Regions from separate parts of the Homo sapiens genome. Here regions 2, 3, 4, 5 and 6 are each reported to be linked to region 1. The links are microRNA targets in miRTarBase. Many come from high-throughput screens and were not tested one by one. Region 1 holds a microRNA gene; each other region holds the end of a gene's coding sequence. Distances are between the middles of the regions.

What was found. The annotated mature microRNA hsa-miR-548bb-3p reads CAAAAACCAUAGUUACUUUUGC and lies in region 1 at 2,337-2,358, shown strand. An mRNA with a match to its seed (bases 2 to 7 or 8) in the 3' UTR can be bound and repressed. Matches are read on the target gene's strand: a 7mer-m8 pairs with bases 2 to 8, a 7mer-A1 pairs with bases 2 to 7 and ends in A, and an 8mer does both.
Region 2: miRTarBase lists CCNI2 as a target of hsa-miR-548bb-3p. Seed matches in the 3' UTR shown: 7mer-m8 at 1,694-1,700.
Region 3: miRTarBase lists TADA3 as a target of hsa-miR-548bb-3p. Seed matches in the 3' UTR shown: 7mer-m8 at 1,094-1,100.
Region 4: miRTarBase lists POGK as a target of hsa-miR-548bb-3p. The part of its 3' UTR that is shown has no 7-base or 8-base seed match.
Region 5: the mRNA of ELAPOR1 is a reported target of hsa-miR-548bb-3p. Seed matches in the 3' UTR shown: 7mer-A1 at 618-624 and 7mer-m8 at 278-284.
Region 6: the mRNA of ACSL3 is a reported target of hsa-miR-548bb-3p. Seed matches in the 3' UTR shown: 7mer-A1 at 3,358-3,364.

Annotation. Positions count from the first base shown.
Region 1 is chr3:60,616,038-60,620,172 of GRCh38, reverse strand. MIR548BB (microRNA 548bb) reads left to right here and starts at 2,303; the gene lies at 2,303-2,368. The region is part of intron 4 of FHIT (fragile histidine triad diadenosine triphosphatase); the gene reads left to right. It also overlaps the pseudogene MTERF1P1.
Region 2 is chr5:132,752,262-132,756,261 of GRCh38, forward strand. CCNI2 (cyclin I family member 2) reads left to right here. Exons shown (of 6, transcript NM_001039780.4): 6 at 605-2,142. The coding sequence ends at 709. The region is part of intron 9 of SEPTIN8 (septin 8); the gene reads right to left. Among named protein-coding and RNA genes, the nearest start is that of CCNI2, 6.8 kb to the left of the region's middle.
Region 3 is chr3:9,776,940-9,781,074 of GRCh38, reverse strand. TADA3 (transcriptional adaptor 3) reads left to right here. Exons shown (of 9, transcript NM_006354.5): 9 at 526-1,108. The coding sequence ends at 718. It also overlaps a transcript of OGG1 not described here. Among named protein-coding and RNA genes, the nearest start is that of CAMK1, 9.1 kb to the right of the region's middle. RefSeq lists an enhancer at 2,636-2,930.
Region 4 is chr1:166,849,674-166,853,808 of GRCh38, forward strand. POGK (pogo transposable element derived with KRAB domain) reads left to right here. Exons shown (of 6, transcript NM_017542.5): 5 at 1-750; 6 at 2,912-4,135. The coding sequence ends at 736. Among named protein-coding and RNA genes, the nearest start is that of POGK, 12 kb to the left of the region's middle.
Region 5 is chr1:109,202,678-109,206,812 of GRCh38, reverse strand. ELAPOR1 (endosome-lysosome associated apoptosis and autophagy regulator 1) reads right to left here. Exons shown (of 22, transcript NM_020775.5): 22 at 32-3,869. The coding sequence ends at 3,801. Among named protein-coding and RNA genes, the nearest start is that of SARS1, 9.2 kb to the left of the region's middle.
Region 6 is chr2:222,941,311-222,945,310 of GRCh38, reverse strand. ACSL3 (acyl-CoA synthetase long chain family member 3) reads right to left here. Exons shown (of 17, transcript NM_004457.5): 17 at 672-3,814. The coding sequence ends at 3,657. Among named protein-coding and RNA genes, the nearest start is that of ACSL3-AS1, 24 kb to the right of the region's middle. RefSeq lists a silencer at 1,140-1,289.

The sequences.
Region 1 (4,135 bases):
CCCACATCCTCACTAGCACTTGGTGTTGTCATTGTTTTGAATTTTCACAATTCTAATAGGTACATAGTGGTATCATTGTTTTAATTTGCAATATCCTAATAATATATGTTGAGCTTCTTTTCATATGCCTGTATTCCATCTGTATGTATTTTTTGGTGAGGTGTCTGTTCAAGTCTTTTGCCCATTTTTAAATTATTTTTCTTAATGAGTTTTAAGACTTTAAAAAAAATATTTTGGATAACAGTTCTTTATCATACATGTTTCTTGCAAATATTTTCTCCTAGCCTTTGGCTTGTCTTTCTCAGTTGACAGTGTCTTATATCAAGGAGACGTTTTCAATTTTAATGAAGTCTAGCTTATCAATGATTTCTTTCATGGATTGCACCTTTGGTATTATATATAAAAAGTCACTTTCATGCTCAAGATCAGCTGAACTTTCTTGTACATTATTTTCTAGGAGTTCTATGGTTTTACATTTTACATTTAGGTCTGTGATTCATTTTGAGTCAATTTTTGTGAATAGTGTGAGGTCTTTGTCTAGATTCTTTTTTTTTTTTTTTTTTTTTTTTTTTGCATGTGGGTATCCATTTGTTCTAGATCCATTTGTGGAAAAGACTATGTGGGCTTTCTCTTCTGTTTCACTGATGTATTTGGTGGCTTTTGCCAATACCACACTGTTTCAATTACTATAGCTTTGTTCTAACTCTTGAAGTCGGATAGTGTCAGTGCTCCTACTTTGTTCTTCTCATTTAATATTGTCTTGCATATTCTGAATCTTTTGCTTTTCCATGTACACTTTAGAATCAGTTTGTTAATATCCACAAAAAATAGGTTGCTGGGATTTTCATTTTCTTTGTATTTATTAGGCAAAAATATTCCTTTATTTACATTTTATTCACATTTAGTTTTTTATGCGCACATTTAAAGGACTTTATTGTAAACAACGACAGTGATTCTAGAACAGTAGATAGCTTTTTTAAATGTAATTACTCTTGTAAGAGGAAAAAATACATGATACTAAAGGATTGTATTTTGTGACCACCTATAATGCAACAAATCATCTACTTAGTTGCTATGTTAATCTTTGCTGCTGTAACAAATTATCAGACTCAGTGGCTTCAAACAACACAAATTTATCATCCTGTGGTTCTGTAGGACAGAAGTATGATACTGGGCCCACTGGGCTGAAAAGGTACCAGCCGTACTGCATTCCTTTTTGGGGCCTTTAGGGGAGATTCTGTTTCATTGGCTTTTCAGTTTTCTTTGTGGCCCCCTGCATTCTTTGGCTTATGGTCCCTTCCTTCTTCAAAGCCTCCTTTTCACCTCCTTCAAAGTGGTCAAGTCTGTCTTATACAGCATCATTCTGACCTCTTTTGCCTCCTTCTTCCACTTTTAAGGACCCTTAGCATTATATTAGGTCCACTCAGATGATTCAAGGTCATCTCAAGGCCCTTAACTTAATCAAATTTCAACTTAATCACATTTGCAAAATCTTTTTGCATAACATATTCGCAGCTTCTTCAAATTAAAACGTTGACATCTTTAGGTGTGGCCATGATTCTGCCTGCCACAGTAGAACTTGTTTTCAAAGTAATCAGGTTTTGCCCTCAGCAAATTAACGCAGGAACGGAAAACCAAGCACCACATGTTCTCACTTACAACAGGGAGCTGAATAATGAGCACACGTCAACACATGGAGGGAACAACACACACTGGGGCCTGTTGGAGGGGTGCTGCTGGGAGGGAGAGCATAAGGAAGAGTAACTAATGGATGCTGGGCTTAATACCTAGGTGATGGGATGATCTGTGTAGCAAATCACCATGGCACTACCATCTCTACAGCAGCACAGCCTGTATCAAATAATGGTATGTTGGAGTAATTCAAACTGGAAAATAGGTAGCTAGGAGGACTGCACCTGAGCATATCAACCATGAGTTTCCATAAACCTGTAAAACAAAATAGCCAAAGAATTATTACATATATATATCTGTGGTTAAGAAATCATACCCCTCCTTTTTGAAAGGCCCAAATTCAAAATGAAAAGATACCACTACATTATATGACTGGCTTTCAAAAATTCCCCAGTGTTCTGCTTAACTTTTTAAATTTACTTTGTATCTTTTTTTTTTAACTCCAGAGTAGAAGAGTGATGCTTGATGTCCTCAAGTTACAGCCAGCATTTACTAATTCTTTGATTTGACTTTATAAAGTACTTATGCTTGAATCCAGAACCCAAGGATTTTTCAGTTATCACAAATTACTTTCACAGAAGGCTAATTTATTATTCTATGAGACAATCCATTAGATTGGTGCAAAAGTAACTATGGTTTTTGCCCAAAAACCATAGTTACTTTTGCACCAAGCTAAAATATTCTTCTCACTAAACTTTTTCTCTGCCAAAAGATCACATCTGGATAACTTTTTTTCCCCACATCTGGATAACTTAAGGCAAGCTTTTGTACCTCTTCTTCAGTACCTCAGAGAGAAAACAGCTTCTGTTTGATATTTGTGTAGTTTGTTTTGGCATAGTCATTGGAAAGGTCTAGGATTTTGGTTCCTGGACCACATATTAAAATAGCAATTCCCTACTGTTCAAATTGAAACTTGCCTGTAAAAATTCAATGTTAGTTTTTACCTGCTTGGTACCCTGAATTAAGATGAAAGGGTTTTAAAAAATCATCTTTCTTACAAAATCTGTGGGATCATTGTGACCCAATGAAAAATATACTTCCTGCAAAACTTTAACCATCTGTTTATTCAGATCGAGACTATTGGAAAAGGTACAAGGGACATTGGTCAACAATCAACAAAGGCATTTACAGGTAAATCCAGCTGAGTAGAGGAACTCATAGAATCCCTAAGTTTAGGTTTTCATGGGACAAAAGAAAGCATTCAGGAGAATGGCCCAAAATATTTACAGTATCAAGATCTGATATCATAATCCTTCATAGATCCCATTGTTTTGAAAGACGTTCAAGAGTGTGTGTTATAGCTTTTAGTTATTTTGATATGATGCTAACAATCACTTCTTTGCTAGCTCCTTTGGAACGAAGAAACATCTTCAGGTCCTGCTCATTGGGAACATTCTGTTAAAAACTCCAGGCTGTCGTTTCTTTGCCATGTCAGTATCCACTTCCATAGTAAGTTATTCAGTGGTTCCTCATTCTCCAAAGCTCATTGTCTGCATCGTTTCACTTCACACCAAAAAGCCTAAGTGAAACTGATTTGAAGAGCATTTCTGCTGAAAATCAGGTCATCCAACATTTTGAATTAAAGTGAAAGTTCTCATATACCAGAGATTTCTTGGTGCCATAATAGTCAGGTAGCCCAAACCTTTCGGAATGCTGTGTGCCGTAGATGGCTTTTACTTTGGCTTGGGATTTTTAAAACTGAGGTTGCATTGAATGTATAGGTCAAGTTGAGAAGAACTGATATCTTGACAATATTGAGATTTCCTGTCTGCGTATGTGGATAGCTTTCCTTTTTCTTAGATCTTTTGTATTTCTTTCAGCAAAGTTTTATAGTTTTCCTTATATAGATCTTTCACGTTTGATTTATACCTAAGTATTTAAATTTTTGGCATTAATGTAAATGGTATTGTGTTTTTAATTTCAAGTCCCAATTGTTCATTGCTAGCAATAAGAAGACAATTGACTTTGTATATTAACTTTTGTCCCACAAGCTTGCTATGATTGCTTATTAGTTCTAGAAGTGTATTACTTGTATAATTAAAAAAATTTTAAAAAAGAATCAAAGAGTATGGAGGAGAAACTTTCAGCACACCTGTGCACATCATAATCATTAAAATGTGATGAAATATGTTGACACCAGGTGTTGCTTTTGTGAATTTCCTGTAGTGGCTTAGAATCACTTTTGCTTATATTTTCAAATGTGAAGATTTGTATAATAAATTAAACTGAACAAACAAGAAAACATCTGGGGTGAGTTTTTGTAACAGGTGTTGTGTAAATAGGTCTTGTGGATATCCAAACAGGTGACACTACCTAAAATATACACACATGTTGGACTCAACATGCACAGAAACAAAGCATGTGGAATAGAAGAACCTAGACAATGGTAGTCCCAAGAATTGTGACCTAATGACAAGTGATATTACTGACAAGGGTGTTAATA
Region 2 (4,000 bases), not on the chromosome of region 1:
CCAAAGGGGTACCCTTTGCCCTTGTAGCCTCTGGAAAATGTTCTGGCCATAACCCTGGAAAGAGTCTGCCCAAAGGCTAGGCTTTCCACACTTGGTCACGCTCTATGCACTTGAGATGGGACATGTGTTCCCTTCACTGGACCAATGGGGGTGGTCTCTGAGAGTGAGAGAATCTTTATCTCAATGGGAGCCCTTGTAGCCAAGAGGACTGTGGGGAGTCAGGGGTATGTCTGGCTTAGGAGGAAGCAACCCTGAGCTTAATACTGAGGAGCATAAATTCTAAACTCCTTCACCTCTCCTTTGTATGAGTGTGTGGTACCAGGTACAGGGGTACCATGAGGCAAGCATTGTGGGGGCACAAGGAGGAGAGGGGTGTGTCAGAATCCCTCAGAACAGATAGGTTAGGATGGAATGCATAGTTAGACTAATGACAACTTTACTGAGGTTGGAAATGGATGTCCCTGAGATGGTAGGATTAGTGGTCCTTAGTTGGGTGGTTGGACCTTCCTGAACTTGCTTCATGCTAACATTTTGGCACTCAATTGCCAATTTCTTAGAATGTATGATGGTTCTGCTTGAAGATGGCCACTCTATTCTAATACAGGTTGGTGATATGCAGTACAGCTGCTGCAAGGAACTTGTAATGCAGCAACTGAGAAGTCTTCAGTCATCCTCCTGCACAGACAACTTTGTGTCACCTGCCAACTAGCCCCTCTGCCTCCACCCCGGGGCTTTCAGAGCATAGTGTGAAACCTCCTTGCTTGGACTACCATGAGTTCTTTGGCTTGTTATGAATCCTGTAAAAAGGGAAGGTGGCTCTGGAAGAGCAACTGAGAAAAAGTTCCCAACTGAGCCCTTGGAAAAAAAATAAAGGGGAGAGGGGAAAGGCAGGCTGAGGTCAGTAGAGGTCAGGGTGGTCTGATAGACTATGACCCTGTCTTCCCTTTTTCTCCTCTGGGCCTGAAGCCAGGGAGTATGAATGAATGTTCAAATGGCAGCTTGTTTTACCTTCCTTCTCCAGCAAGGGTTGGCATTGGCCCCTGGGAGCGCTGGAATATGAAACCAAGAGGCAGGCCTGGCTCAGGGCTGAAGGGCTGGGGCTAGCTCTGACCAGTTCTTGCTGCTCTACCTGCCAGAGCTGGCCAGGTCCTTCCAACTTCCCAGGCTTATCCCAAACACATATGTGGTGCTTCCAGTCCCAACTACCCTGCCTGCCACTCCTCACATGGGACAGTCTCTGCAGATGCATTTACCCAACCATGGCTATGACTTATGTCTTCCCTTTACAAGGACTGGATTATAAAGTATGCTTTGTTTAATGTAACTTGAGCAAGCTTTAGGCATATCTTTCCTTTGTTACTCTTAAGCAAAGTGGTTTCAGTTATTAGTTTAACTAGAGGGATTTTGTGCTAATGAATGGGTATTATAGGCTAACACCTGTGATGGGAGGCACAGCTCTGAATGCTTTCTGTTGGGATGAGCAGGTTCTGAGGCCAAGCCTGCTCCAACCACAGTGCTGCCAGGAGGAGGAGCCGGCTGCCTCTCTCATGCTGTGCTACCACAGAGCCATTCTCTAAGCAGGGGAGTGCAGCTGACAAAGATGCCAGCTGGGGCTGTGTAAGTTGTGTTGGGGGCATGAATGACTGAGCCACACATTCAGAGGTGGTTTGTGAAGTCTTCCACTGTGAACTATGGTTTTTTTTTTTTTTTTTTTTTTTTGGTGTGTTTGTGTAAATGTGCTAAGCCATGGGGTGGGAGGGGAAAGATTTACTAGGTGCAAAGTGGTCAAGGGCCAGATATACTATAATTGTCTATATTATAGAGTTAGTATACATCTGTATTTTTTCTTGACACACTTTTGCTTGTTGGTGCTTTCGTTAAAATTACACTTTAATTGCTTCCGATCCTGTATGAGTCTTATTTTGAGCTACCATGCATTTAGCCTTGCGAGAGTCAGATACATTTGGAACACTATCTCCTAGGTCATATCAAGAACTCTCCTCTAGTCCAGAACCCATTTTACAGATGGAGATGCTGAGGCCATGCTGCTCACAGCTTCCAGTGGTGGCCGTTGAGTGCCCTCTGCCTCCTTCCTTCCAGTGTAAGTGGGACCACAGTGCATGAGGCAGAAGGACATCCTGAGGGCCCATACCAGTTTAGGCATCCCAGGCTTTAGGGGAACTGCTGGAAGACATCTGCTGCTTAACCAGGTGGCTATGGATGTGAGCTGGATTCTGAGAGCTGATCCAACTCAAACCTCTTGGAGAAAGCAGAGGGTAGACATGTGAGTCCTAGGACTGGGGTAAGAGACAACCTTCTGCTCTGGCTTTCTATAAATGATAGAACTCTTCTATAGGGAAGCTCACTTTTGTATTGCCGAAGTCCCACTCGTGGATTTTTAAAAATCTTATGTGCTTTTCAAGCTTGCCGTGGGGCCCCAGGTCCCATCCTACTTCCCTCTAATATTCTTTTCTGACATTAGGAACTCCTATCCCACCTCAACTCAGAGATTGGGAAACATTTCTCAGGGAGAAATATGGATACAATCTATTTTCCTTTTGACCCCAGCTATTGAAAGGCAGGGATTGGTGAAGGAATGAGGCTGAAGAAAATGGAGATGGAAAAAGCTCAGAGGCAGATGCTATGGCAGAAAGAAAGGTAGGTGGGCTCAGGGAGGAACAGGGCAGGGGGAGCATCATAGACCTGTCTTAAACTTGTCCAAACAGTACTTCCCTGAAATGAATGAGCCAAGTCATTTGATGATGTTTCCACCACCTAGGAGGCCCTCCTCCCCCTGGCTTCCTGGAGAGTCTCTGTCCTTCAAAGCTTGGTGAATACTTTACTTTGCCTCCCTGCTGCCTGCACAAGTAGAGCTGAGCTATGCCTGCATTAGGGATGTGTTCATACCACTCTCCCTGCAGGGGTCCCCATTTTCTCATTTTGGTCTTCCCAAACCTACCTAGTGCTCAATGGAGAAAGCTCCTTAAAAAACAAACCCACATACTTTTTATCACTTCTTTTCACCAGTCTGCTCTTCCTCAGCCACTTTTGCCTGTCCCCTAGGGCTTTCTACCTCTAAAAAACAGTCTCAGGTCCACCAGCCCACACCATCAGGCTGTGTACTTTAACACTAGCCACACTTTCACTACTCTTCCATCATTCCATTGAGATGCCAAGGAGCAGGTGTAGCTCAGGATTTAAGGGTACAGACTACCAGCGTTCAAATCTCAACTTCTCCAGTTACTTGCCATGTAACCTTGGGTAATTACTTAAACCTCTGTGCTTCAGCTATAAAATGGGGATGAATGGTCCCTAATCATAGGATTAGGATGAGGATTAGAGGAGTTAATGCATGTAATATGGTTCCGAGCAGTCCTGGCACTCGAATATTAGTAGTCCCGTGGCAAGCCTTTGTGTTAAGGAGGAACACTCCTCAAGGGCAGGTGCCCCTTTTCTCATGTCCTGCACCCAGTTAACCAATAAAGATTCATGGACCACAGGCTGCCCCTTTACCTTCCTGTAACTTTCCTGTGACTCTTCCCTCCATCCCCCACCTATGCAAGAGCCTTTCACAGATGTCTGTAGCAGGGTTTCCTATTAAAACAATTCCTACAGAAGTAGATCAACCTCCACAAAATTCAAAGAACAGACAAGCTGTATTTTACCACAGTTGTAGCAGATTAATGGGCTCAGGAAACGTTAAATCAGAAAAGCTACTGCCCAAAAAAGACACCACAAAAACTCAAAATAAATGCAAAATTTAATGAAAAAAATAAGTACAAAGTGAATGGAAAAGAACAAAAACAGTCAATGAATGCAGGAGTAAATGAATTAACACGTGAAGCAATTTTAGAAAAGCATGTTAACGTAACAGACTAGCAAGCCACACTTCCTCAGGCCTCGTATCCATGAGCCCCACTTAACAGGGAGCCCACATTTACACATACACAAACATATGCAGTCAGTAATGCACAATTACAAACCACCTAGATCAGGGTAC
Region 3 (4,135 bases), 51 Mb from region 1:
CACTGTAACCTTGAACTCCTGGCCTCAAGCAATCCTCAGCTCCCTTGGAGTTGGGACTACAGGTGTGCACTACCACACCCAGCTAATTTTTTAAATTTTTTGTAGAGACAGTCTCACTATGTTGCTCAGACTGGTCTCGAACTCCTGGGCTCAAGTGATCCTTCTGCCTTGGGCTCCCAAAGTGCTGGGACTGCAGATGTGAACCCCCATGTGCAGCCAAGACTTTATTCTTCTAGAGCAGTTTTAAGTTCACAACAAAATTGAGAGAAAGGTACAGAGAATTCCCGTATCTCCCTGTCCCCACATGTGCACAGCCTCCCCCGTGATCAACATGAGTTAATATTTTTCAGGAGCTTAAGATAGTGCCATGTAAGTGTAGGTCAGTAACTGCTTTTTGGTCACGACTGTATGACACAATCCACAGGCATGCCAGCCTGGGCTGGTGGGTAGGCTCGGTCTTGAAGAGGGAGGGGTTGTTCTCTGGAGGTGGGCTGACCCTGGCACCTGGCTGGCTGGTCCCCACAGGCTGGCAAAGGAGGAGGTGAGCCGGCAGGAGCTGAGGCAGCGGGTGCGCATGGCTGACAACGAGGTCATGGACGCCTTTCGCAAGATCATGGCTGCCCGGCAGAAGAAGCGGACTCCCACCAAGAAAGAAAAGGACCAGGCCTGGAAGACTCTGAAGGAGCGTGAGAGCATCCTGAAGCTGCTGGATGGGTAGCCCTCACCCCTGCCTCAGGCTGATTATCTGGCCTAGGGGAGGGGAAGGGAGGCCCACTTCCTTCTTTGGGCACAGGAAACATTGGCCTGTGGCTGTCCCTCAAATGGCGGCAGTCTCTAGAGGGCCGTGGCCCTTCCCCTGAGGTCTTTTGGCCTAGCTCTGTACAACCAGGACACAGGAAGCCCTGCTGGGCTAGCCTGAGGCCTAGTCTCTGCTTGGTCCCCGAGATGGGGTTGGAGGGGACTTCGTTTCTGGGTCTTCCTCTTCCCCTCTTTACCATCCCCCACTCCCTAATCCCCTACCCCTGTCTCCCCTTCAAGGACTTCTCCCTTGTGGTTTTGTAAAGTGCAAACTTAAGAATAAAGTGACTGCTGTGGTTTTTCAAAAAAAGCATCCAGTCTTTGAATGTCTGTTACAGTGGGGAGGAAGGAACCAGTGTGGGTGGTAAGGTTTGTGGGGGGTATGCTTGGTGGCTCTCAGCCCATGGCCACTAACCCATGGCATTCAGTCAGGGAGAACTTTCTGAGTACCTCTTTCTGAGGATACTTGTGGCTGCACGTAACAATGCCCCCCCAGCTCAAAGTGGATTCACAGTAAGGAAATGTGTTGGCTGCAGGATGGGCAGTCCTGGGACAGAGTGGCCTTCACGGTTAGCCAATCTAGCAATTCTTCAGGGTCATCAAGGGTCCAGGTTTCTTTTTTTTTTAATTTAAGTTCTAGGGTACATGTGTACAACGTGCAGGTTTGTTACATATGTATACATGTGCCATGTTGGTGTGCTGCACCCATTAACTCGTCATTTACATTAGGTATATCTCCTAATGCTTTCCCTCCCCCCTCCCCCAAGGGTCCAGGTTTCTTAGGGGTCACCACACTGCCCTCCACAGTGTCGACCTCTGCCTAAGGTGAGTCCTTCTCTGGCTGTAGTGTGGCAGTGGAGCAGTTGGGGCCAGATGCTTCCTCATTTACATCCAGCACAGGAGGGAGCCGGAGCCAGCGGGCTTCCATGGCCCATCTACAGAAGCAAGAAGCCTTTTCCCAGATACCATCATGTTTCAGTGGCCCAAACTCAGTCTCACATGCCCATTCCTCAGTCACTGTGGCAAAGGAGACTGTAATGGCTTTATGCCAGTCAGAGTGGAGTTTGCTACTCCATCAAGGTGGTGGAGAGAGAGTAAAACCCAACAAGATCTGAGTAGGAAACAGGGAAGTGAGTGCTAGATAGACCACCGACAACGTCTCTTCCACAGCTGGGGCAGGAAGCTTGGCCTAAGGGACACAGATGAATAAATATGCTCTGGTACCTGCCTCAAGTTGTTCCCAGACTGGTCTGAGAGAATCAGGGAATAATTTGCAATTTACTGTGGGAAGGTTGAGGTCCACGCAGGAGAGAAGGGAGGGTAAGATTCCCTAAGGAAGTGACCTATGAACTGAGCCATAAAGAAGGAGGGCGAACATGGCCAACATTCTCGTATACCCAGCACCTCTCTGTTGGAGAAATGTTCCTTCCCCATCACACATGGTTCTTGTCCAACTGCCAAACTAGGGTGCACACATGACCCCAGCTTGGCCAGTCAAGTGCCAATCCCTCTAGCCACAATGATTAGTCCCAGAAGCAGGCATGTAACCCAAGCTGGGTCACTCGAGGCCCTCCATAAGATTGCTCTGTGGATGCTGAGAGGAGAGTTCCACTTCTTGTTGGACCATAAGCCATAGACTATAAACTCAGTCTACCCCAGTGACCTGCTCTCCTCCCATGGGGAAAAACCTGCTTGAGAATAAAGCCAGCTCAGAAAAGCAGAGCCAGGAGATGGAGAAGTGCTGCATCCAGCTATTCTTGAAGCCACCGGATCCTCCCTTAGACTTCCCACATATATCAGCCCACAAAGGCTTCTTTTGGCTTAAACTAGTTTGCTTTAGAGTTTTGTGATTTGTAACTAAAAAAGGCCTATTACAAGTGAATTTTGGCAAAAAGAAAGATGAAGTAGGATCCTGAGAGAGAGGACAGCATGAGGCCCTGCCTCCCACTAGGTGCTGGGCCAAGCTGCTGCAATTTCTCAGTGACTCATTGTCCCCAGGTTGCTCACAGCCTTCTCAGAGAGAAAAGACACCCACACATGCAATGATGAGAAACCAACTCTAATCATAATGATAATGCAATGAAGGGCTCAGTAAATGTTAGTATGCACCAGGCATTGTTCTGAACTCATTCAACTACCTAATATTATGGGGTAGGTATCAGCTACCCCATAATAACATCCCATTTACAGATGAGGAAACTGAGGCTTAGGAGGTTACATACCTTGCTTTGTCAAGCAATTGAGTGGTTGAGCCAACATTCAAACTCAGGCCATTTGGCTTACAGAGAGAGCCTCTTCATTACAACTCACTGGGGCCCCACTCCCATTACAGTGTATGTGAATGGTACTCCCTATACTTGGGCAGTGCCCAACCTGTGCAGCCATATATGGCAGCTCTGCTTGAAGACCCCCCTCCTCTTAACCACTCACTTCCATGTTCACTGGGCCACACCATAAGTATGGTGGGCGTTGTTGGTAGAGAGTTCCAAGAACAGAGACAGTTTTGTGGAGGAGGTGGGATGAGAGCTGACATCCCAAAATTGGATGGAATTGTGAAAGAAGGAAGACAGATATAAATAGAAAGAAGAACCCTAGAAGACCGACTGGGCCTGGTTCACCAGAGAAGAAACTTAACTTTCAAGGATCAGTCATGAGCACTCTAGCTGTTCTCTGTTGCATACCTACTATCTGCCTGGCACTGTGCCAGGCCCTTTACCCACCCCTCCTATCTGATGCTTACCATGCACCTCCAAGGAGAGTAATATTCCAGCCTGCAGATGACACAGAGACTCAAAGAGATGCTGTGCCTTGCTGAGGCCATGCAGCCTTGATGCAGGAATAGTTGCTGCCCCCAGGTAGCACCATCCCTGGCAGAGTTCTTACAATCATATCAGTGTCTGCTGGAGCCAAAAGATGCCTCCTTTATGAGTGTGGAGGAAGCTGGGTTGTCATGAGGAGGGCGGATTAGTTCCAGTACCTCAAGTCTCCAAATTTAATTCAAAACAATTCTGATTCCTTATCACTAGTTTGGAGGCAAAGCCTTTTGTGTCTTGGCCCTAGAAAGCATCTGTCTTGCACATCATGGTCTCCCCAGAGTTCCAAATGCCTTACAGCTGACTTTCAGCAACACCAGGGTGAGTGAGAACGGGGAGGGTGAGCTCTGACCCACAGTGGGTCCCCAGCCCCTGTCTGCTCCTGAGTACTCTGGGCACCAAGTGCTCTGGGTCCCAGTTGGCTCCTGCTGAAAAGAAAGTGATGGCAGGAGCTTTGTGGAAATGTGGTCGGGGAGTAAATTTATTTCTTGGCCTGGGGCTCAGGACTCAATGGAAAGAACCAA
Region 4 (4,135 bases), not on the chromosome of region 1:
GACGCCCATTTGTTTAGAGGTGCCATCACGGGTAACTGTTGATAACCAGGGCGAAAAGCCTGTCTTGGTCAAGACACCAGGCAGGGAAAAACTGAAAATCACAGCAATGCTTGGTGTCTTGGCTGATGGGAGGAAGTTACCACCGTACATCATTTTGAGGGGAACATATATCCCCCCGGGGAAGTTTCCCAGTGGGATGGAAATTCGCTGCCACCGGTATGGGTGGATGACTGAAGACTTGATGCAGGACTGGTTGGAAGTGGTGTGGAGACGGAGGACAGGAGCAGTGCCCAAGCAGCGAGGGATGCTGATCTTGAATGGCTTCCGGGGCCATGCCACAGATTCCGTGAAGAACTCCATGGAAAGCATGAACACTGACATGGTGATCATCCCAGGGGGTCTGACCTCACAGCTTCAGGTGCTGGATGTCGTGGTCTACAAGCCACTGAATGACAGTGTGCGGGCCCAGTACTCCAACTGGCTTCTGGCTGGGAACCTGGCGCTGAGCCCAACCGGGAATGCTAAGAAGCCACCCCTGGGCCTCTTTCTGGAGTGGGTCATGGTCGCGTGGAATAGCATCTCAAGTGAGTCCATCGTCCAAGGGTTCAAGAAGTGCCATATCTCCAGCAACTTGGAGGAGGAAGACGATGTCCTGTGGGAAATCGAGAGTGAGTTGCCAGGAGGAGGAGAACCACCAAAAGATTGTGACACCGAAAGCATGGCTGAGAGCAACTGAAGGGAAAGGGAAAGGTAACCACTCAGGAGTAGATACTCAGTGCCTTTGCTGACATGTCTGTGTTCTACAAACACCTTCTCTCCATTATTTTTCTGTTTTTAAGTTCCCTTAGAGCCTACAGTGCAGTAGTGTAGATCAGGGGTCCCCAACCCCCAGGTCACGGACCATACTGGTCCATGGCCTGTCAGGAACTGGGCTGCACAGCAGGAGGTGAGCGGCAGGTGAGCAAGCATTACCACCTGAGCTCCGCCCGCTGTCACAGCAGCGGCATTAGATTCTCATAGGAGCACAAACCCTGTTGTGAACTGCACATGTGAGGGATCTAGGTTGCAGGCTCCTCAATGCCTGAGGATCTGAGGCGGAACAGTTTCATCCCAAAGCCATCCTACCACCCACTACCCCGCACTTCCTGGGTCCCTGCAAAAATTGTCTTCCATGAAACCAGTCCCTGGTGCCAGAAAAGTTGGGGACTGCTGGTATAGATAACAGACCATTAGCATTTTCTCCTTTATATGAAACATTTATTATTTGATTTATTTGTGTCTATTTTGCTCTGTGGCTTGGACCCAGAAACACTTGTATAATAGGTGAAATGAACAAAGAATGAGCTGCCAGAACATCTGAGAGCTGTAAAGTTAAAATTATTTGGACCCAAAGAAGCATAGTCTGACGTTGTTCAGTTCACACAAAATTTTGTCTGAAAAGCCAACTTTTTTCTTTCCCTTTTAAATTATGCTGAACATTTAGGGCCAGTATGTGTAACTGACATGCTGGGACAGTTGTACTCACTTTTGCTGGCCTGTAGGACTGTGACATAGGGAGAACACTAAGTGTGTCCTCCGGGCCTCGGGTCTCAGTCCTGGAGCTATCTACAGTATGTTACCAGCGAGTAAGAATAATAGCTTCTACTTGCTTTTCCCTACAGAGTTCAGGAGTTTTAAAACGTCATCTTAGTCTCATTATGACCTTCACATGGGCTATGACAATAATTTCCTGTAGTCAGCAGATGTCTGAAGGAAGATATTTTTTAACTGAATCTTTACACCAAAAAAAGAAAATAAAACGGTGCGTATCTAGGACTCTAGTGAGGGCTGAGGACAATAGGCCTGGAATTTTCTGGGTTGAGTACACAAGAAGAACAGCTTTCAAAGGAAAGTAGGAATGGAGGCCTAACTGAGACAACACTAGTGAAATGACCCCACCCACCTACACCTCCAGAGAGGAGGAGGATGAGCATGTACAGCAGGGGGGACACCCACAAAGAACAAACAATTCATTTACCTGTTCGTTCTCATCTCCCTAATTATAAATTAAATTGATCCTCCAGACAGTGTTTTATATGAAGGAAGAAGCCACCTTTTTTACAGAGGACCTGAAACCGTCAACCATCTTCACACATTCTTTTTCTTTCTTTTAAAGTATAATTAGGTATTTCCATCTTCCTTGCTTTTTTCTCCAAATGAAATGCTAATGGGAGCCTTATTTTACCCACTTCAGCTATATAAGTCCATCTGTGTTTCAAAGAGTGACTTATGTCTCCTGCCTTGCTTCCAAATTAAATTGTACTCATATTGCTGAATCCCATTGTAATTCTGGGATCCCTGGAATTACAATGGAGCAAGAAGTTCTTACTATTACATTCAAAATCACCAAAATTGCTTTTTTTTCCCCCTTGGGTCCTCCTTGCTTTGAGAAACCCCATGAATCCAGCCTCCCTTTTCTGCTGACCCTTATATTGCCTGCATTGGATATCAAACTGAATTACATTGAGTTTCCATCTTTTCTTCATTTACCTTTTGCTTTTCCCTCTCCTTGTTAGATAACATTTTTGTGCACTTTTAATTTCCTAAGCTCCTTACCACCTCAGGGACATGATTAAAAACTTCCAGAAGAGGAAAGGAGAAAAAGCTATGCTAAGTTGCATTTATGAATGTTGGCCTGTAATATTGGTCATGAGCTTTTGCTCTTCTAGTCTGCCACAATTCTCTCTGCAGCTCCTGAGGAAGTGATGGGAGTAGACAGATTCACAGTGAACAAGAGATTTGGGAGACCAAGTGGGCATAAAACTACGTCTTGGCCTCTATTTGGAAATCTGAATGATGGAATTATTATGTTTGTTAAAAGTTATACCAAAAAGCCAAGGGTTAATTCATTTAGGTTCTCTCTGTTTTCCAGCAAATGGAACTCTGATTTAAACAGCTGGGGATGAAATTCCTCAAGATGATTATTCCTGAAAGTGTGGATGCGCTGGATGCGCAGGGAACATCAGGAAAAGGCCACGGGGCTCTGAACAGCCCCGGTCCAGACAGCAGCCTGTACATCCATCCCAGGACACAGCCCAGCCCCTCCCCACACCATACAAGGTATCAGAAAAGTCTAGGACCTATCATTTCATCAGAGACATGATCAGAAAAGAAACTGCTTCTGCCCCATTTCTTGTTTTGGAGATTACTCCATCTGTCCATCAAAAGAAACCTGTAAATATGAAAGAACAAAGGTTATTTCCTGGAGAAAAGACAATTTATTCAACACCAACGAGGGACTCATCATATGGGCACAACTCTGGTGTCCTTCTATGGAGAAAACCTCAAGTAAAGTTTTATTCTGCCTTTGAAAATGCTTCCAAAAGTAGACCCTGTCCCCACACAGGTCAAGACTACAGAGAAGGCTTTGTAGAAATGTGTCACCTATGTACACCTGCTACTTACACATTTCCTCTTTTGGAAAAATGAGATACTTAGAATAACAAGAAAATTAAGACATACTGGCCTGGTGCCAGCAGATGGCTTTTCTATAGACAAACTAGGTTAGTGTGGAAGATATAGGTTAAAATAAACTATGCTGTTTTATTTATCTTCCCAACCTGATTGGCAGCTAGACTTTTTTAGGGTCTCATTTAATGGCCCTGTTTTTTTCATTATTATATTTAATGATAGGGCAGGATTTCGTATGCAAGCTCTTGTTTCTCAGGCTGCCTGCAGAAGAAGTCGCTATAAATTATCTGTTGTCTACATGGTACAAGGCCCATTGACTCATCTGATGCTTGTTTTGTTAATTTCTTTAATATTTTTATCACGGGGCAGTGGGAGGGCTTGGGCTTTTAGCCACAGCTGTTTTAAGACTTCTGATCTCCTGCCCTGCAGGAATAGGTGGGAAGTCATTGAATTTTTACACTATAGTAATTTGCATTCCCACATAAGTTTGAGTGTTACGAAAACATTCCTTTAAAGGGATCTGTGCTACACAAAATATGCCAGGACCTCACAGACAAAGCCATTGCTAGAAATGTCATTCCAATGATCAGATCTGGAAACAGGCTGCCATAACCACTTTTCCTTCTTGTAGACTCAGCTCACCTGTATATTTAAACTGTTCTTGGCATCTTGAAACACCTATTTC
Region 5 (4,135 bases), not on the chromosome of region 1:
AGCCACCCAACCCATGTTTAAGAAAAACAACTTGTAAGGTATGTTTTTATTTTACAAAAAAAAAAAGTGACATGCAATAACCCATCTTCTAACAAACTATTAACGCTTGGATTACAGGGTAAAAAGGAAATCCAACCAGCCCTGATGAAAAAAAATTCGATTTCACAAAGCTGAAAAAATCTATTACAAAGTTTCTGTTGTATAAATATAGTCAGTCTTATCTTTAATGTAGTCAGACAAAAAAAAGTTTTGTTGGCACTAAAACAAAAACAAAAGCAAAAACCCTACTGCTTGAATACACCACAATCTTCATTTGTATTCCCAGCCAAATACAGATGATGTCTATAGCATGACAGTTACTGCATGTTCCAGGACTCAAGGTAACCAAATGAGATTTAAACATTTTATCATACTCCCTCTACCAACAACAGCTTGGACAGACCACTTTAGCCCTGGGTCAAGGACTAAAGCCTTTGTTCATAGAAAATTGAACATGTAGGCCAGGCACGGTGGCTTACACCTGTAATCCCAGCACTTTGGGAGGCCGAGGTGGGTGGATCACTTGAGTCCAGGAGTTTGAGACCAGCCTGGCCAACATGGTGAAACCCCATCTCTACTAAAAACACAAAAATTAGCTAGGCGTGGTGGCGCATGCTTGTAATCCCAGCTACTGGGGAGGCTGAAGCAGAAGGATCACTTGAACCCAGGATGGGGAGGCTGCAGTGAGCCAAGATCATGGCACTGCACTCCAGCCTGGGCAACAAAGCTGACTCTGTCTCAAAAAAAAAAAGGAAAAGAAAATTGAACATGTGTTTGCTCTCAAGTGGGCGGACAACTCTGTGAGTTTGCTGAAAACCATTGAATCGTATGTTTTAAAGGTGAATTGTGTAATATGTGAATTATATCTCAATAAAGCTGTTAAAAATATATGACATGCCTAACTTGCTAGGGGAGCAACAGGTGACCCCAGTAGCGTAACTCAGGAGTTCCTGACAGGTCACAGGGCAGACCTGCAGAAGTCAGCACGGTAAGGGGTAGTAAAAAGTAGCTCCTTAAAGTATTATGGCTAAAATCAGTGGAGTCAGAATAAAGAAGTCAAAGACATATGTAATTTTTCCTACTGTTTCCGGAATAGTCTAAGGGCTGTCTGTGGCCTTTGTCACAAAAGAAAGCTATTCAGTGAGACAGCAGGTGCCCAAGTATTGCTGAGGCTACAGAAGACTTTAGGCTGGAGCTCAGGAGCTGCGTATCTGCATCCACACTGGGGGAAGTTCCAACATGGACACAGGTTCTGAGAGCCTGACTCCTACAAAAGGAGGGGAGAATTTGGATACCCAAAGAAAAACTGGATTTATTAAACCAAAGGGACTCCCTGCCGTCACCAACACTGTTGATGGCCAGGGACCACAGCCTGGCTCTAGTTCTCATTGACTCTTACAAAGCCATTGCCAGGGCAGCAGTGGCTAATCAGATGAGCATTTTGTGGCAGACTAGTCACTTGCAAATGCCATCCCCTTTCTATATCTACCATCTGGTCACCAAATGGTCACTGGAGAAAGGGCACAGGCACAAATCATGGGCAATTGGGGCTTGACCAAGGGAAGGTCACCCTAGCCTGATAGTGATGGAGGCAGAACTGCCAGTAGAAGAAAGAAGAAGGTAATTTAAAGTCTTGCTCTGGTTTTACCCATTCTAGGTACTTAAAAGTTCATTGATAATAGTTTGTGTAAAATTGGGGAAAATGGGCATAGAAGACACCCACTCTACTCACCTTTCAGAAGGGATGTTGCCAGAAATTGGACCAGAAGTCTCTTTAGTTTTTTATCACACAAAGCAATTGAGAATGAAAAAAAGAGAAAGATAGGGGCTTAATAGTGAGAAGTATCCCAGCTTGGTGAACACCTTGTTTATTTTTAAATTTTTTAGAGACAGGGTCTCACTGTGTTGCCCAGGCTGGTCTTGAACTCCTGAGCTCAAGCCACCATTCTGCCTTGGGATTACAGGTGTGAGCCACCATGCTGGGCCCAGTGAAAATCTTGTTAAACTCTCCTAGCCTTCCTTCCTTGAAGACTGGTTTGATTCTGGTGCTGGCGTATGGGCCTGGGATTCAGTTCCTTTTTTGGCCAGCCTAGACGTTTATTCTGTGCCTGAGCAGATGCGTTAAGCTTAGAAGCAGACATCACGGCCACCTCAGGCCCATGCCATTGTGGGCTGTATCCCCTAAAGTGCCCCATTAAAATCTTGGCCTCCTTGTGCTCTTTTCAAATAAGAGACCCCTGTTCCATAATATGGCCCAAACTTCTAGGACGGGGGCACTCAAGGATGGGGAATTTTCCTCACTGACAGGGTTTGCTATGTCTGTGGGTAAACCCAACAGAGGATAAGGCTGGAACATCTGGGTTTGGGGCTTACCTGGTTCTTTTCAGTGTCATAGAGTGATAGTGGAAGGTTTAAAAAAAAGATAGGGAGGATGTATCCACCAGGGCTTTGGGCATTTTCTTGATGAACTTATTCCTTTGGCTTCAGTGAGAATATCTATCATTTACTTAAGAGAAGGCAATGAGCTACGTGGTTTAAAAAACAAATAAAAGGCTGAGTGCAGTGGCTTATGCCTGTAATCCCAGCAGTTTGGGAGGCTGAGGCGGACAGATCACTTGAGCCCAGGAGTTGGAGACCAGCCTGGGCAACATGGTGAAACCCTGTGTCTACAAAAAATATAAAAATTAGTGAGCCTGGTGGTGCACACTTGTAGTCCTAGCTACTTGAGAGGTTGAGATGGGAGGATAGCTTGAGCCCAAGAGCTTGAGGCTGCACTGAACAGTGATTATGCCACTGCACTCCAGCCTAGGTGACAGAGTGAGAGCCTGTCTCAAAAACAAAAACATTCCTTGTTGCCTCTCTTTGTGCTTTTCTTTTTTTTTTTTTTTTTTTTTGAGGCAGAGTCTCACTCTGTCACCCAGGCTGGATGGAGTGCAGTGGCGCGATCTCGGCTCACTGCAAGCTCCGCCTTCCAGGTTCACGCTATTCTCCCGCCTCAGCCTCCCGAGTAGCTGGGACTACAGGCACCCGCCACCACGCCCGGCTAATTTTTTGTATTTTTAGTAGAGACGGGGTTTCACCGTGTTAGCCAGGATGGTCTCAATCTCCCGACCTCATGATCTGCCCGCCTCGGCCTCCCAAAGTGCTGGGATTACAGGCGTGAGCCACCGCGCCCGGCCTCTTTTTATGCTTTTCAAGGCTTTTCTTACCCAGGCCTTGCTCCCCTTGCCCTCAGACTACCATTTTCACTCCCTTTGAGCTGGTTATCCAGGGGAAATGGATCCAGGCTGCTATGAAGATTATCCACCAGGGAACCCCGACACCCTCCTCACCCAGCCTCTCTCCTGAAGAGATCATGAGCTGAGGGCATGCGAGGAAAACTCCCAGCTGTTTCTGCCCTTAAGTTAGAGGACAGAGGAAATAGTTTCTATACTTAAGAAGATAGAAATATTTTCATTCCAAAGCTATAAGAATTATGAGCAGACGAAGCTATGGCTCTGGCGGATGGGCCATTTTGGGAAACAAGATACAAGCAAGGGCATAATTTACAAACAAAGTGTGGGTATATTTGGCAGGTTTGAGGCAAGCAGAAAGGAGGGTTTGGGTACTCTATAAAAAAAGATCTGAAATTCAAACATCTGATAAGGCCACAATGAAGAGATTTCCAGCAGTGGGTGTTGCAGGATGCTGGCACCCAAATCGCCGCAGGCTTGCAAAGGTGCTATGCAAGGTGAGGAGGCAGGTGAGGCAGGCAGTGCCTCTCACAGGTCCATGTCTAGGCCTCCTGAGGATGTCTTCAGCGGCACTGAGTCAAATCCATCAGGAGTCCTCTGAAAGAGAGATGGTGACAGGAGCTGGCTGCTGCACAGGGGCAAGTTTGGGGACAAAGGAGAGAAATGGAAAATAGGTGACAGAAGGAACCCTTATGAAATTCCTGTTTCAGTGGCTTTGTGGAAACACAGAAATGAGATACCCTCTATTCTGCTTGCTCCCTTCAGGGTCAGTTGGAGAACAATAAAAATCTTTTTCTTTTAGGCGGGGTGTGGTGGCTCATGCCTGTAATCCCAGCACTTGGGAGGCCAAGGCAGGTGGATCA
Region 6 (4,000 bases), not on the chromosome of region 1:
CAAAGTTAATGAGGAGAAATTAGGCACAACTGTCTAAGTTAATGCAAAACACACAAAGATGCCAAATGTTTATGTAAAGAAAGCTTTAACTGGTTTTGTTACAGGATTACACACAGAGACAAAAGTATGCTATGATAAAGTTACATATACCCACAAATATTGACTGGCAGTCAAAGATGGGGTGGGTGAGGGAGGTTAGTTTCTGAAACACAGCATGATACAACTCTTCCTCCCACAATTATTGGATTAAATGTTGGCACAAAGTTTAGATATTTCTGCCACATTGTAGATTCTACCCCATTAATTTTGATGCCAAATTTCAATTTACCACCTCTATTCAAGATTTTATGCTGTATGAATATTTTGGAATTTAAAATGCTGACAGTATATCTTCTGGGCAGTCAGAACCAAAAAGGAGGAATGGAAAGGAGGAATTCGGGAAGGGTTAGGGGAAAGTTAGAATATAAAAAGGCTAGGAAATAGATTATTAACAGAATTTCTAGAATAAAAAGTTTTCCTTTGGTTAGGTTGTTAGGTCAGGATGGAAAATTCCCCAAACTCCTTCTTCAAGTATTTCAGGAATGTCAATGAAAGTTTCACTTTTACAGGAACAGCTTTTCTTAAAAACCAAAACCAAAAAAAAAAAAAAAAAAAGCCAATATATTAAGAGCTTTAATATCAGAAACTTCAACTTTTATAGATCTTTATTCTTCAAACTTTATGTCAAATTACAAATAAATAGTCCATACCATGTAGCTCTTTATGATACACGTCTTCAGGCAGAAAACAGCAACAACCAAGAACACATCGGAAATGAACTCACAGTAAATAACCAATTTTAAGTAGAGAAAGGATATATGACATTTCAGTGTGGTCCAATATGTACACTGTTTAAAAGCGGATCCCCCTGTAAAACATCACAGATGTACATAATTCTTATGGGAAAAAAAGAGCCCACACATCAGAGATTTTTAAAAGTTTTTTCAAAGTTGTATCACAGGGACTGGTTGTTTAAAAATGGCAAAATCTTGAGTATTTTAGCAGCAAACAAGTAAGTTATTCCAGGTTAATCTATTTTTAAACGTTGCTGAAAAAGTTGCAAGCTTTAGAGAACATTATAAATATCAAATCCACTACTGAAAAGCAAAGTAGTATTTAGAAAGTAGATACTACTTTCAGGTTTGTTCTGTGTCAGCAAAAACTTTTTCATGAAGTTTCTGCTAAGAAGGATGTCAGTGGAGGAGCAGTGGGGAAATAAATGGAGGTGGCCACCAGTCTTGGCTCTAAGTTGCTAAACTTACTGGAACATGTAATGCTTACGAATTCTTCATAGAGCTTAGTTTATTCCCAGTAAACAATAGTTCTTAAGAACCATTCTTTTAGATCTGTATCTTATTGTCAGATATTTGTATTAGATTTAGCAATTTGAAATTCCTTAAAATTTTGCTCCCCAAATATCTCCTGGTTAAACCAGTATTTCTTATATGAGTCATAATTGAGTGGTTTTTTCATTGAACAGTTTTTTCCTCTTGAAAGGGTAATTTTAGAGGATATTATTTTTTAAGTCACTAAAGATAGTTTTGCTTACAGACAAATTTGTTTAAAAGGGGACTCTACTTAATTTCACTTTCTACTGTGGCATTTGACACCTGGCATCTGACATTTTAGGACTGAAAGGAATTATAAACTTCATATGAGAAAACAAACGAAACTAAATAGAGTTTAAGCCTGCCTCATTAGATGGTTCCATCAGTGATCAGCTACATAATTCATCTGACACTATTTCAAGTCACAATTATCAGTATCTCTCCTTTGAAGCATTCACACTTTTTTCCTAGATACAATCTCCTTTTTTTAATCATCTGAAAGCAAACAATTATTCTAAAGACAAGGCATCAGAAACAAATTCTCTCCGCCCACTGAGATTTAATTTTTAGATCACAGCATCCTCATATAGAAGTTCCATTCAATATTTTTACTTCTTCTTGGCAGTTATCCCAAACATTAATATTTAATTATGAAAAGAGAAAAGCATTCAAAACATAATACAAATATACAATACAAGAAAAGTTGAAAACAAAAAACACTGTATTGCAATGTCTCCACATACGATGTTTGTGATGCAACCAAACACACACTACACAGTCCTGGCTGCTCCTAACACTCCCCTTACTTTACACAGACCTAGGTTCATCTTTTTTTTTGTTTTTGTTTTTTTTTTTTTTGATTTTTGCCTTTTGATGCCTACAGTAACTGAGAATCAACAAAGTAACTAGTCTGACATGAAAAATGTGGTGCCTATGATTTAAGTCCTGATTTGAGCACATCTTAATTGGTGCACTATTGCTTTTGATAATCCAGATATAACAACAGACAAGCAGTAATAAATGAAGAGACTATGTATCACACAAGCAAGGTTTCTGAATTACAAATAACTTCAACAATGACATCAAAACCTATGAATTAAATCTTAACTCACGCGGTTATAAAGTTAAATTCTCATGTGTCTTAGTGAGAATGCTATCATCAAATACATTCTAAATTCTTTCATTTTTTAGTGTACAAAGGTTATGGGAGAAAGGATAAGGTGCTTTTTAAATAAGCTACCACTGACTCACACACATCCATACACGCATCAGTGCAAACTAGGAAAAACACTAATTTTAAAATGAAATAATGATTATCTAGACTAAAAGGAGACTTTGAGATAGAATAATTTTCCATGACTAATTTGTTTACAAATATAGATAACTCAATGTACATATAGTCAACGAAATATTCAAAGAATAACTTTATATACTCTTGTTCTTTAAATTCTATCCTCTCTTTCAGAATTCTTCCATTTAAGTTTGGGTATTTTCCTAGTTTCAACAGATGAACAGAAGACTTCATTGAACATTTTGACAGTAAGCTACTAGAGACCAATTATCAACTGGTGCTACACATGCTGTGTTATCTCCCTTACTATTAAACTATAACCCTCTCTTGCTATTTTGTTTCATGCATCACCAACCAAACTTCATTTTTTCTAATAAAAAATAAATATATAAAGAAGACACTGACAGGCATATATTCACAAGATCTCAACTTCTTAAAACATAAGTATGGGTATATTTATTTCTCTCAAATGCATACAAGACAATAATTACACAGCAACAAATCTTTTGTTCAACAATGATTTGATTCATAAGCATTTGAAATTTACATAATTTCATATCAATACCCTTGTATTTTTAAATACAGTAAGTAAAAAAGCCCCCAAATAACCAATTCTTATATTTCCTATTTATCCCTCTATACATCCAAACTTTTAAAAAGTTACAAACTGAACATTATACAGAACATATAAATCATGTTTAAAAACTTGAGGTTTTAAAATCACTGCTTCCCCAATATGATTCAGAAAAATTCTCATACTGACAAGTACAGTCATAGGTGGTAAAGTAAGTTGGTGGCGGGGAAAATGAAAGAAGAGACAGACACAAGTTTGCTGTCTTAATGTTTTACTAATCCTGTCAGTTAAAAATGGTGACGTCATGAGAAGTAATAGTTTAATATGAGGAATGGAGTTTGCCTTGCAGCTTGAGACATGCATTTCAAGTATTTTCCTATTTGATCTGAGCTCACTGTAGCAAACTGATGCCAGAAGAGAATAATTATTTTCTTCCATACATTCGCTCAATGTCCGCCTGGTAATGTGTTTTAAGCTCTTTGCGTTTCAGCTTGAAGGCATCTGTCACCAGACCAGTTTCAGGGGTCCACGGTTCAGGACTCAAACGAATTTTTACTGGAATTTCAAACTTTTCCAGACTTGCTAAGATGATTAAAAAAAAAGAAAAGAAGAAAAGGTATTTAAGTTCTTAGCAAATGGTGTAACTTCCCCACTTTTTGCGTATCCATCAAAATGCACAACCAACAAGTGAACCATGAATGTCACTTCTAAAGAATCTATTCCTCAAAATACAAACATAAGTAAAACAATAAACTATTTAACAAGTCC